Homo sapiens: one gene and its partner. The protein of the gene in region 1 interacts with the protein of each later gene in a biochemical or structural test. Each region holds a gene or a part of one and is shown in the gene's direction. Other genes may lie near its edges.

Region 1 (7,030 bases):
GCTTGAAACCCAGGAGGTGGAGGTTGTAGTGAGCTGAGATTGTGCCATTGCACTCCAGCCCGTGCGACAGAGTGAGACCTTGTCTCAAAAAAGCAAAAACAAAAACTATTAGAGATACGTCTTTGGCCGGGCACGGTAGCTCAAGCCTGTAATCCCAGCACTTTGGGAGGCCGAGGTGGGCGGTTCACCTGAGGTCAGGAGTTTGAGACCAGTCTGGCCAATATGGCGAAACCTCGTCTCTACTAAAAATAGAAAAATTAGCTGGGCACGCCTGTAATCCTAGCTATTCAGGAGGTTGAGGCAGGAGAATCGCTTGAACTTGGGAGGTGGAGGTTGCAGTGAGCCAAGATTGTACCATTGCACTCCAGCTTGGGTGACAGAGGGAAACTGTCTTTTTTTGTTTGTTTGTTTTTAAAGGAGATACATCTTCATCTGTTCCTGCTTTGACCCTTTGCCTGGACCATGGCAGTGTCCTTTCAGGCTGTACGTCCCTCCATCCTGCCCTCCTGTGCCTCTGCTTACACTGGGCTCTTAAGGAAACTCCTGCTCCTTGTCTCATCATCCCTAGGGATGGTTCTGTCTTATCATTTCTAGAATTGGATGCCTTGCCATCTTGTTTGCTCCTTAACTCTGCATACAGGGCTGTGTAAATAATTCCTTCATGAAAATCTCTATTTCAATCTTCTGGGATGAGTTTTTTCCTTCTGGGACCCTGACTGATAGAGACTGATAATACACCCGTATGAAAATATGTCTGCCAGGTGCGGTGGCTCATGCCTGTAATCTCAGCACTTTGGGAGGCCGAGGCAGGCGGATCACCTGAGGTCAGGAGCTCGAGACCAGCCTGGCCAACATGGCAAAACCCTGTCTCTACTAAAAGTACAAAAATTAGCCGGGCGTGGTGGTGGGCGCCTGTAATCCCAGCTACTCAGGATGCTGAGGCAGGAGAATCACTTGAACCCGGAAGGCGGAAGTTGCAGTGAGCTGAGATTGTGTCACTGCACTCCAGCCTGGGCGACAAGAGCAAGGCTCTGTCTTGAAAAAAAAAGAAAAAAAGTCAGAAATAATTTGCAAAGCATGTTAGAAAATTCTAGATTTCCTGAATAGCAATTTAATTGAGATTGGCCAAGAAATATTACATAGGGTTGATACTCTTTTATTCTAAGATAGTCCTTTCTGAGCATGGGGTCTATAATTTTTTTTTCCTCCACCTTACTGCTGCCCCACCTTTTAACTTTCACTTAGTGGACCTTTGCCCCAAGATTTTCTCTCAGCTTTTCCTAGGTAAGACAGCATCACCCGGGCGCGATGGCTCATGCCTGTAATCCCAGAACTTTGGGAGGCCAAGGCAGGCGGATTGCCTGAAGTCAGGAGTTCGAGACCAGTCTGGCCAATATGGTGAAACCCTGTCTCTACTAAAAATACAAAAAAATTAGCCAAGGATGGTGGGGGGCGCCTGTAATCCTAGCTACTCGGGAGGCTGAGGCAGGGGAATTGTTTGAATCAAGGGAGGTGGAAGTTGCAGTGAGCCAATATCGTGCCACTGCACTCCAGCCTGGGTAACAGAGTGAGACTCCGTCTCAAAAAGGAAAAAAAAGACAGCATCTTACATTCAGGTATTTATAAACAACTTTTATTATTTATTTGTTTTTATTTTATATTGGCTCACTGCAGCCTCCACCTCCTGGGTTCAAGTGATTCTCCTGCGTCAGCCTCCCAAGTAGCTGGAACTACACGTGCCTGCTACCATGCCGAGGTAATTTTTTTTTTTTTTTTTTTTTTGAGAAGGAGTTTTCGCCCTTTTTGCAAAGGTTGGAGTGCAGTGGTGCGATCTCGGCTCACTGCAACCTCCTCCTCCTGGGTTCAAGCGATTCTCCTGCCTCAGCTTGTCGAGTAGGTGGGATTACAGTCACGCTCCACCACACTGACTAATTTCGTATTTTTAATAGAGACGAGGTTTCTCCTTGTTAGCCAGGTTGGTCTCAAACGCCTGACCTCAGGTTATCCACCTGCCTTAGCCTCTCAAAAAGTACTGGGATTACAGGCATGAGCCACTACGCCTGGCAATTTTTTGTATTTTTAATAGAGACAGGGTTTCACCATGTTGACCAGGTTGGTTTCGAACTCCTGACCTTAGGCGATCTGCCCGCCTTGGCCTCCCAAAGTGCTGGGATTATGGGCGTGAGCCATCGTCCCTGGCCTAAACAACAGTTTTATTATTTTATTTTTTATTTTTTTATTGCTTATTACTATTTTTTGAGATGGAGTCTCGCTCTGTCACCCAGGCCGGGGTGCAGTGGCATGATATGGGCTCATGGCAACCTCTGCCTCCTGGGTTCAAGCAGTTCTCCTGCTTTGGCCTCCCAAAGTGATGGAATTACAGGCCCGAGCCACTGCGCCCGGCCACAACTATTTTAATAGTGTTGTTTTGGTGTTGGTTGATTAAAGGAATGGGAACGAATGACTTGAAGCCCTCTCTGTTTCACTCTTTATACAAAGTGGAGTCCAGATTGGGCTAGTGGCCTGTCTAGCCCAATGTCTGACTTGGACATACATTACTGTCCAGGAGTTTCTTAGCTGAATGTGAAAAATGCCTTCCGTGACATCATCCTTACAGGAACATTCTTTACATTTATTCTTTACTTCTGTTGAACGGTGGTGGCGTGAACCATGAATTTGTTTAAGCTTTTCAGCTGTTTTGTGTGTTTTCCTCTCAAGGCATGGGGTTTCATATTTTTGACCTGTGGTAAAGGTATTTGAATTCTGCACTGGCCTCCAAATGTAGGTGTAGTATATGGCTCTGATCTTTGTTGATGATTTTATACATAATGTGGTTTTTTTTCTTGATAAGCCAAAAAAATTATACATAATGTGTGTGTGTGTGTGTGTTTTAATTTCAAATGATAGTTACAGTAAAAGTTTGGAGTTGGGCTAAGTGGGAGGAGCATCAGGAAGCCATTTTTAGAAACCTTAAATTCACCCTTTATAACTTTCTGTCTTTTTGCATTAGTCATCTGATACCTTAGTACTGCCTACTTTTTCACATCTCCATCACTACGTAGCTCTTAAAATTGTAGTCTTCCTTGAAAGGAGATGTTTTTGTCAAGAGTCTTTGCCACCAAGGCAGGATTGCATGTGATCAGTAGGAATATTTTCCTGCAATGTCTTAATATGAAAAATTTCAAACAGACTAGTGGAAAGCATTGTACAGTCAACATGCACATACCCATGGCCTGGATTCTATGACAGTATTTTGCTCTACTTGTTCATTTTGCTGTATTTGCTTTATCATGTCTTCCTGTTATCAGAGGGAACCTTTTAAGAGGATTTATAGAGGAGTTGATTTTGTTTTTTGTTTTGTTTTGTTTTGCTCTTTTTGAGGTGGAGTCTTGCTCTGTTGCCCAGGCTGGAGTGCAATGGCATGATCTCTGCTCACTGCAATCTCCGCATCCCAGGTTCAGGCGATTCTCCTGCCTCAGCCTCCTGAGTAGCTGGGCTTACAGGCACCCACCACCATGCCTGGCTAATTTTTGTATTCTTAGTTGAGACAGGTTTCACCATCTTGGCCAGGCTGGTCTGGAACTCCTGACCTCAGGTGATCCACCTGCCTCGGCCTCCCAAAGTGATGGGATTACAGGCGTCAGCCACCATGCCCGGCCTGATTTTGAAAAAGAATAGGGACTGTGTGCAGTTACATATAAATTCTTATTTTTGAACTCTTGTGTGTTCAGCTGGCTTGTATCAACTACACCAGGGTTAGCCTTGATTCTGGAAGGGTGGATTCAGACTTCAGCTCAGTTGTACATAGTGTCTTCAGCCTAAGTGAGAAACTTTATGCACTATCTTAATTTTTTGAAGCTTCTAGTGGTAATAATTGCTGGCTTTTTTTTTTTTTTTTTGGTAGAAACAGAGTCTTGCTCTGTCGCCAGGCTGGAGTGCAGTGGCACGAAATCAGCTCACTGCAACCTCTGCCTCCCAGGTTCAAGCAATTCTCCTGCCTCAGCCTCCTGAGTAGCTGAGATTACAGGCGTGTGCCACCACACCCAGCTAATTTCTTTTGTATTTTAGTAGAGACGGGGTTTCACTGTGCTGCCCAGGCTGGTCTTGAACTCCTAAGGTCAGACAGTCCGCCCACCTTGCCCTCCTAAAGTGCTAGGATTACAGGCATGAGCCACCGTGCCTGGCTTATGGCTAGCTTTCTTTACATTGATTGTGAAGTCAGATATTGGTAGTAGAACATCATAATTTTAGATTGGGTTTTGTGTTTATTTAGCACTGCACTACTCTAGTGGTGTATTTTTCTGGACAGATTTTATCTGCATAGTTAACGCAGTTATATATAAGGCCTACCGTTACAGAATCCCCATACCTTGTTTGTCAGTGTAAATCGAGGACCTTCATGCGAGGTCTTTAATTTATTCAATAAGTAGGAATATATATTTGACAGTTACTAAATTCTACTGCCTTGTCCTTAAGATCTACATACTTTTTTTTGTTTTTTGAGTCAGAGAGTCTCGCTCTGTTGCTCAGGCTGGAGTGCAGTGATGCGATCTCAGCTCACTGCAACCTCTACCCCGTGGCCTCAAGCGATACTTCTGCCTCAGCCTCCTGAGTAGCTGGGATTACAGGCGCCTGCCACCACACTCAGCTAATTTTTTGTATTTTTAATAGAGATGCAGTTTCGCTGTGTTGGTCAGTCTGGTCTCGAACTCCTGGCCTGAAGTGATCCACCCGCCTTGGCCTCTTGCTGGGATTACAGGGAAGAGCCACTGCGCCTGGCCAAGATCTACTCACTTTTAGACAGCAATATATGCTCTGTATTTTGGTTTGCAATTGTAATTGTCATTGGAAGAGTTTGGCTTTTCTGTCCTGAGATCAACGTGTCTTTAAAAGAAGGCAGTGCAGAAAGTTGTTATTTTTTGAGCTTCTTGGATCTTTTATTTTTTTAACGTGAGGAAATTCCTAGCGTTTCTAGATTTGTTGATTGTGCTTTTAAGTTTTGGTTTATAGATTTCAGGAAGTAACACTAAAGTTTACCCTACTCTCCTCAAAAAGTAAGTAAAAAGTTCTCTTGGCTGGGCGTGGTGGCTCACGCCTGTAACCCCAGCACTTTGGGAGGCCGATGGGGTGGATCTCCTGAGGTCAGGAATTCGAGACCAGTCTGGCCAACATGGCAAAACCCTGTCTCTACTGAAAATACAACAACAAAAAAAAATTAGCTGGATGTGGTGGTGCTTACGTGTAGTCCCAGCTACTTGGGAGGCTGAGGCAGGAGAATTGTTCGAACCCAGCAGGCAGAGGTTGTGGTAAGCCAGGATTGCACCATTGGGCTCCAGCCTGGAAGACAGAGCCAAGACTCCGTCTTAAAGTTCTCTTAATGGAAAAATGAAGAACATAATAGCAACATAAGTTATTTGCTTTCATTGTGGTTATTTCTACAGGACAGGGCAGGGGAAGCACAGATAGGTTAAAAAAAATTGTAGCATCATGAGCTAGGGGGAAATCCAATGTAGAAATGGCATGAACTTTCTTCCAGCCGACTCATGTTCGTTTCCTAGAGTGATGACATTGCTCGATGATTGAAAAGAGGTTGAACTGAGCAGTTAATTATATAAAGTTAGAAATTCCAAAGAAGTAGTAACTACCAGAAATTCTCCAGCAGTATCAGTCAAGACTTGTGGCCAAATACGGCTTCCATTCTTCATGAGGGAAAGGCCATGGAAAGGCTGTCACATTGCCCAGTGCAGATGTTGACTTGGTTTGTGGAAGCGCAGCGTGGACAAGGAATGAATATACACTAATAGGAGTGGAATAACCTTTTTCTTTTACCTATTTGAATAAATTAAGTAAAAGTTTTAATCAGAAGACTTAAAGAGGAGTCGATTTTATCTTTTGATTGCACTAAGCTTAAATATAAGGTTGCACTTTAAGAATTCTGTAGTTTAATAATCATATTCTTATAAGACATAGATTTGTAACAAATAGTGATTGGTAATAAAATTTCAGTCAGTATCAGATTATGCCAGTACCTTGAATTTCTTCCCGGTTGAGCCTTTCTCAGCTAAAGATGTCATTCAGGAAAGGAAGTTTAGAGGATTTTAGACACAGCTGGTTGCCTTTATATTAGTAGTTTTGTTCCTCATATACATAGAGACTTAGGACAGAATAGTAAAAGAAGTGATAATGACATTTTATCATAACAGTCAAAACCTTCATAGCAGCTTATCCTTGACACTGAGTGGCAACTATTGTTAAGGTTTTTACACAACCTTTATCTTTTTTTTTTTTTTTTTTTTTTTTTTTTTTTTTTTGAGACGGAGTTTTGCTCTTGTTGCCCAGGCTGGAGTGCAATGGCGCAATCTCGGCTCACTGCAACTTCCGCCTCCCGGGTTCAAGCGACTCTCCTGCTTCAGCCTCCCGAGTAGCTGGGATTACAGGCATGCACGCCCGGCTAATTTTGTATTTTTAGTAGAGAGGGGTTTCTCCATGTTGGTCAGGCTCTTCTCGAATTCCTGACCTCAGGTGATCCGCCCGCCTTGGCCTCCCAAAGTGCTGGGATTACATGTGTGAGCCACCGAGCCCAGCCAACCTTTATCATTTTTAAAAAGGTCCCTTAGAGCCTTAGGCTCCACTTTCTTCCTCAGCTGCCACATCCAAACCATGGGTAAGCGATGCTTGATCTGCCTCCAAGTTCAAGCAGTCCAGGAAACAGCCCACTTATGTTCACTGTCCAGTCCCCATTCTTGGTCCAGGCCACCATGGATGGCTCCTGGACTGTAGCAACAGCTTCCATGTGTGTCTGCCTTGACTGAGTCCCTGGCGTCCTCAGGCTTCCTGCCACACTGCAGTTGGAGGCTTCTTCTAAAATCCAGTGCTTTCTGGGCAATTTAAAACCTGTGACTTTCCAAGTAGGATCTAGTCCCCATGTCCTTAACAAGAAGAGGTAACGTATTTCCCTATGCCACTGCCCACTTATTTTTTTATTGTTGAGATGGGATCGTGCTTTGTCACCTAGGCTGGGTGGAGTGGT
Region 2 (6,528 bases), on another chromosome or scaffold:
CTCAGCCCTGTTCGTAATAGGTAAGGCAGCTCCATAGTTGAGTTCTGGAAATCTGGGGTGCTATACTTTGATCATCCAGAGAACAGCATAATCCCTTTTTTTTTTTTTTTTTTTTTTTTTTTTTGAGACGGAGTCTCGCCCTATCACCAGACTGGACTGCAGTGGTGATAGGGTATGGTACTCAGCTCACTACAACCTCTGCCTCCCGGGTTCAATCAATTCTCCTGCCTCAGCCTTCTGAGTAGCTGGGACTGCAGGTGCATGCCACTATGCCCAGCTAATTTTTGTATTTTTAATAGAGATAGGGTTTCACCATGTTGGCCAGGATGGCCTCGATCTGACCTCGTGATCCGCCCGCCTCGGTCTCCCAAAGTGCTGGGATTACAGATGTGAGCCACTGTGCCCGGCTGCATAATACCTTTTCCTTTTGGCCCCCCAAAATTTCCTGGCACGTAACATATTGTGAATGAGTGATAACTTAAATACGTTCAATAATAACAATTTATCTTTGGTAATACTGAGTGTGCTTATATACACAGCACCTACTCTTTCTAGAAAACCTCCTCCCTTGGTGCTTTTTATACGGACCCCCTTTTGTTTATTTACTTCTCCCAGTCCTCAAACATGCATGTATTCAAACACATACACCCTCTCCTTCCCCAGTGTCCTCCGTTTTCTCCTTTTATCATTAGGTTTCCTTTTTGGCCATGTGGAAGTGAAGAGAATTCCTATGATGTCATCCCTTCACACGCCACTTGTGGAACTCCTCAGTGGTTCCTCTTTGATAGGATGTAAGTGCTGCAGGCAGAGAGAGGTTGCCATTCCTCTCTCCAAGTCCCAGAGCAGATGGTACTTGGGCTTGGCAATCTGTGCTGCTTCAGCTGCAGAAGTACTTTTGACCTGTATTTTCTGCAGCCCTTTTCACTCTTGAAGACTTGGTTCATCTCCTTTCCCCATTTCACAGAATATTTTTATATGAGAATATAAAAACCATACCCTTACGATGTTATCTTTCAACAGGTTTAAAAATGTTATATTTGAAATCAGTCCAACAGAAGAAGTTGGAGACTTCGAAGTGAAAGCCAAATTCATGGGAGTTCAAATGGAGACTTTTATGTTACATTATCAGGTGGGTATGCACCAGCAGGAACCAAAAACTTTCTGGATGAGATTCTTGTCCAAGTAGGAGAAATAGATAAAGAGGAGACTCATCTGAGGAAAGCTGTCTACATTCAGCAGTGAGCTAGGCTCCACACTGCGGGGAAAGAAGCTGAGGGTTTCAGCATGTCTGGTTTGGTGTGTGCGCTCTGGAGAGCTTTTGCAGATGTCACTCTTCAGAAAACATTTAGCTGAAGCTTCCACTTAGTGCTGCCACTAAATCGAGCTGACACCTTGGACTTGAACAAAATGCAGAAGTACACATGCTGACACTGCAGAATTCTAAGCCCACTCAGTAGCTTGAAATCTTTTTGTCATTTTGATTTGATATAGGTACTTAAAAGTTAGATACATTCTGACAAGGTGTGTGTAAAGTTTATGTTTGTAAACTGAATTCTATCTTAAATCCAAAAAGAACTCGGGAGTAATTCATTTTTGTAGCATAAAGATCCCTAAGTTTTATTTTGAAATATCTGATTTTTACACGTTAAAAAATAACAGGGCATCGAGAGGATTCCTAGGTGACATCCAGACTCCTTTAGCTTTGTGTGTGTGGCACCGGTTAGTCTGCTTCTCTCTCCTTTCTTGCACTGCTTCACACAGCCATGCCCTGCCAGCCCGGGCAGGTGCCTTCCTGTCAATGTACATTTGGGCTTCTGCTCATGCTGCCCTCCCTCCCCTCCCCTGCCTCCCAACCCCGCCCCTTTTGTTCCTCCATGGAGTACTTCCATGGGTGTGCCTCCCCCAGCCAAGCCATAATAGGTGGTTTCCCCTTCGCTTCTGTAGCCCTTGCAGACATCCTCTGTTTACAGTAGGTGTTGACTTACTTCCCCTCTCCCCGCTAAAGCCATAAACTCCTTAAGGACAGGTAGCATTTCTTAGTCATCTTCGTTTCCTTCTCAATGACCAGTAGACCATTAAAACATGTTAGCTAAACAAATGTGAAATGATTTTGTGATGCACACAGCTAACTAAAGTACTTCCACCAAAAAAAAAAAAAGAATAGGAACCTCTTATTCCCTCAGTTTCACCAAATTATTTTTTTAATTTAAAATTTTTTATTTACGTGGAGTTATCAGAACATATTTTTATTTTTAAATTTTTTAACCAAATCATGTTAGGCCAACCAGTCTGCCTGTGGTAATTTATTAATTTATGTACAAATTCATTAAATGTGGGGTAACTGCCAGGTGTGGGGTATTCTGTTAGGCACAGGTCCCAGCAGCCCTCATGGAGCTGCTAGGATTTTTCCAACAGATAATTGAACTTGTGGGGTCCTTTCTTTTTTTGGAGGGGGGGGCAGAGTCTCGCCCTGTCTCCCAGACTGGAGTGTAGTGGCGTGTTCTCCATTCACTGCAACCTCCACCTCGTGGGTTCAAGTGATTCTCCTGCCTCAGCCTCCTGAGTGGCTGGGATTACAGGCGCACACCATCACGCCCGGCTAATTTTTTTTTTTTTTGAGACAGTTTCGCTCTTATTGCCCAAGCTGCAGTGCAATGGCACAATCTCGGCTCACTGCAACCTCCGCCTCCTGGGTTCAAGTGATTCTCCTGCCTCAGCCTCCTGAGTAGCTGAGAATATAGGCGTGCACCACCACGCCCCAACGCCCAGCTAATTTTTGTATTTTTAGTAGAAACAGGGTTTCGCCATGTTGGCCAGGCTGGTCTCTAACTCGTGACTTCGTGATCCGCCTGCCTCGGCCTCCCAAAGTGCTGGGATGACAGGCGTGAGCCACCACACCCGGCCTTGTGGGGTCCTTTCAAGACTTTTGACCCTTGCTTTCTCATCACCACTCTTATAAAGTTCAGAAGTGAGACCACTCAGATTTCTTAAACTTGTTCAGGACAATGGTGAAAGTAGCAGGAAAAGCGGGAGCATTGCAGTCAGATCTGGATTTATCGCCTCCATCTCTGTCCTGTTGTGCAAGTCATTTAACATCTCTGAGTCTCAGTAGCTCATCTTTAAAGTTAGAATAATCGCACCTCATAAAAATTTTTGTGAGGACTTTAAAAGATACTATGTAATGTGCTTACACAATGCCAAGCACATGGCAGACACCTAATAAAACATCAAGTTCTCTCTTTTCCCCTTGCCTTCGGGATAGAAAGTGTTCTCATATGGAATAGAAATTAAGAATCTATCAGATAGTATTAAGGTGACATTACTAGCCTTATCTCATTTCCCCGTGCTTAGTATATTTCATCATAGGTTTAAATGCTTCACCTTTTCCAGATTTATTAAAACTAGTGACCCATAACATGGATGAAATGGGAAAATGTCATTGTGACTTCTGAAATAAAAAGCTTAGATGTGTGTGGCAATTGAACATGTTTCTTTTTCTTTCCATGTATGATGAATTTTGATATGAACAACATGACTTCCTAACTCCAAATCAACCAGAAGCCTCCCTTGGCCAATGTGCCCTATTGCTCCAGCTCTCAGGCTGGTTGTGCAGTGGGTAGTTGCCTAGCGTGGAACTTTTCTTTCGCCCCAGTTCACATCTGGCACACAAGGCAGGCCTCAGTCCATCTGGATCCCTCCCTACATTGTGTCCTTTTTCCTTGTTCCACAGACTTGATTAACTGTCAAAATGTTTTGTTTTGTTTTGTTTTGTTTTGTTAATAGGACCTGCTGCAGCTACAGTATGAAGGAGTTGCAGTCATGAAATTATTTGATAGAGCTAAAGTAAATGTCAACCTCCTGATCTTCCTTCTCAACAAAAAGTTCTACGGGAAGTAATTGATCGTTTGCTGCCAGCCCAGAAGGATGAAGGAAAGAAGCACCTCACAGCTCCTTTCTAGGTCCTTCTTTCCTCATTGGAAGCAAAGACCTAGCCAACAACAGCACCTCAATCTGATACACTCCCGATGCCACATTTTTAACTCCTCTCGCTCTGATGGGACATTTGTTACCCTTTTTTCATAGTGAAATTGTGTTTCAGGCTTAGTCTGACCTTTCTGGTTTCTTCATTTTCTTCCATTACTTAGGAAAGAGTGGAAACTCCACTAAAATTTCTCTGTGTTGTTACAGTCTTAGAGGTTGCAGTACTATATTGTAAGCTTTGGTGTTTGTTTAATTAGCAATAGGGATGGTAGGATTCAAATGTGTGTCATTTAGAAGTGGAAGCTATTAGCACCAATGACATAAATACATACAAGACACACAACTAAAATGTCATGTTATTAACAGTTATTAGGTTGTCATTTAAAAATAAAGTTCCTTTATATTTCTGTCCCATCAGGAAAACTGAAGGATATGGGGAATCATTGGTTATCTTCCATTGTGTTTTTCTTTATGGACAGGAGCTAATGGAAGTGACAGTCATGTTCAAAGGAAGCATTTCTAGAAAAAAGGAGATAATGTTTTTAAATTTCATTATCAAACTTGGGCAATTCTGTTTGTGTAACTCCCCGACTAGTGGATGGGAGAGTCCCATTGCTAAAATTCAGCTACTCAGATAAATTCAGAATGGGTCAAGGCACCTGCCTGTTTTTGTTGGTGCACAGAGATTGACTTGATTCAGAGAGACAATTCACTCCATCCCTATGGCAGAGGAATGGGTTAGCCCTAATGTAGAATGTCATTGTTTTTAAAACTGTTTTATATCTTAAGAGTGCCTTATTAAAGTATAGATGTATGTCTTAAAATGTGGGTGATAGGAATTTTAAAGATTTATATAATGCATCAAAAGCCTTAGAATAAGAAAAGCTTTTTTTAAATTGCTTTATCTGTATATCTGAACTCTTGAAACTTATAGCTAAAACACTAGGATTTATCTGCAGTGTTCAGGGAGATAATTCTGCCTTTAATTGTCTAAAACAAAAACAAAACCAGCCAACCTATGTTACACGTGAGATTAAAACCAATTTTTTCCCCATTTTTTCTCCTTTTTTCTCTTGCTGCCCACATTGTGCCTTTATTTTATGAGCCCCAGTTTTCTGGGCTTAGTTTAAAAAAAAAATCAAGTCTAAACATTGCATTTAGAAAGCTTTTGTTCTTGGATAAAAAGTCATACACTTTAAAAAAAAAAAAAACTTTTTCCAGGAAAATATATTGAAATCATGCTGCTGAGCCTCTATTTTCTTTCTTTGATGTTTTGATTCAGTATTCTTTTATCATAAATTTTTAGCATTTAAAAATTCACTGATGTACATTAAGCCAATAAACTGCTTTAATGAATAACAAACTATGTAGTGTGTCCCTATTATAAATGCATTGGAGAAGTATTTTTATGAGACTCTTTACTCAGGTGCATGGTTACAGCCCACAGGGAGGCATGGAGTGCCATGGAAGGATTCGCCACTACCCAGACCTTGTTTTTTGTTGTATTTTGGAAGACAGGTTTTTTAAAGAAACATTTTCCTCAGATTAAAAGATGATGCTATTACAACTAGCATTGCCTCAAAAACTGGGACCAACCAAAGTGTGTCAACCCTGTTTCCTTAAAAGAGGCTATGAATCCCAAAGGCCACATCCAAGACAGGCAATAATGAGCAGAGTTTACAGCTCCTTTAATAAAATGTGTCAGTAATTTTAAGGTTTATAGTTCCCTCAACACAATTGCTAATGCAGAATAGTGTAAAATGCGCTTCAAGAATGTTGATGATGATGATATAGAATTGTGGCTTTAGTAGCACAGAGGATGCCCCAACAAACTCATGGCGTTGAAACCACACAGTTCTCATTACTGTTATTTATTAGCTGTAGCATTCTCTGTCTCCTCTCTCTCCTCCTTTGACCTTCTCCTCGACCAGCCATCATGACATTTACCATGAATTTACTTCCTCCCAAGAGTTTGGACTGCCCGTCAGATTGTTGCTGCACATAGTTGCCTTTGTATCTCTGTATGAAATAAAAGGTCATTTGTTCATGTTTGTGTTTTTCTCAGTTTCATTGTTAACAGTTCCTGCTAAACACCTTGACTAGAGTGAGATGTATCAGTTAAAATCACAACAGCAGACAACCCCTTCCTTTTAAAGGAGAAAACGTAAGTCCACCATCAGATCATTGAATGTCTCAAAGTGACTTTTAATGTGTGAACGTGTGACTTTAGCCTTTTTAATGAATATGCTTAAGTTATCTTCACCATAAAAAGAAGGGTGTTGCGGGAAGCAAACATTATATGTCACTTAATTCTGATTGACGAACGGTGGAAAGTTTAAAATTGCAACAGCATTTAACCTTTTTTGACCAGCATACTGTTGTTGAGCACATAGACTGTGCCCCTTAGGGGGTTCCTATGTCACTTGGAAGTCACCAGAAAAGACTAGGGGATGTTGAATGTGGAAAAAGTAAATCACAGCAGTAAAAAAAGAAGAAAAGGGGCTGGCGTAGTGGCTCACACCTGTAATCCCAACACTTTAGGAGGCC

The links. The genes of interacting proteins can lie anywhere in the genome.
Region 2: the proteins of RAC1 (region 1) and IQGAP1 form a complex in vitro, tested with the Homo sapiens proteins (3 studies listed by BioGRID).

Annotation. Positions count from the first base shown.
Region 1 is NC_000007.14:6,377,509-6,384,538, forward strand, and holds part of RAC1 (ras-related C3 botulinum toxin substrate 1), read left to right. Parts: intron 1-7,030. UniProt on the Homo sapiens protein: Plasma membrane-associated small GTPase which cycles between active GTP-bound and inactive GDP-bound states.
Region 2 is NC_000015.10:90,496,212-90,502,739, forward strand, and holds the end of IQGAP1 (ras GTPase-activating-like protein IQGAP1), read left to right. Parts: intron 1-1,020; coding exon 1,021-1,129; intron 1,130-3,783; coding exon 3,784-3,897; 3' UTR 3,898-6,028; downstream 6,029-6,528. UniProt on the Homo sapiens protein: Plays a crucial role in regulating the dynamics and assembly of the actin cytoskeleton.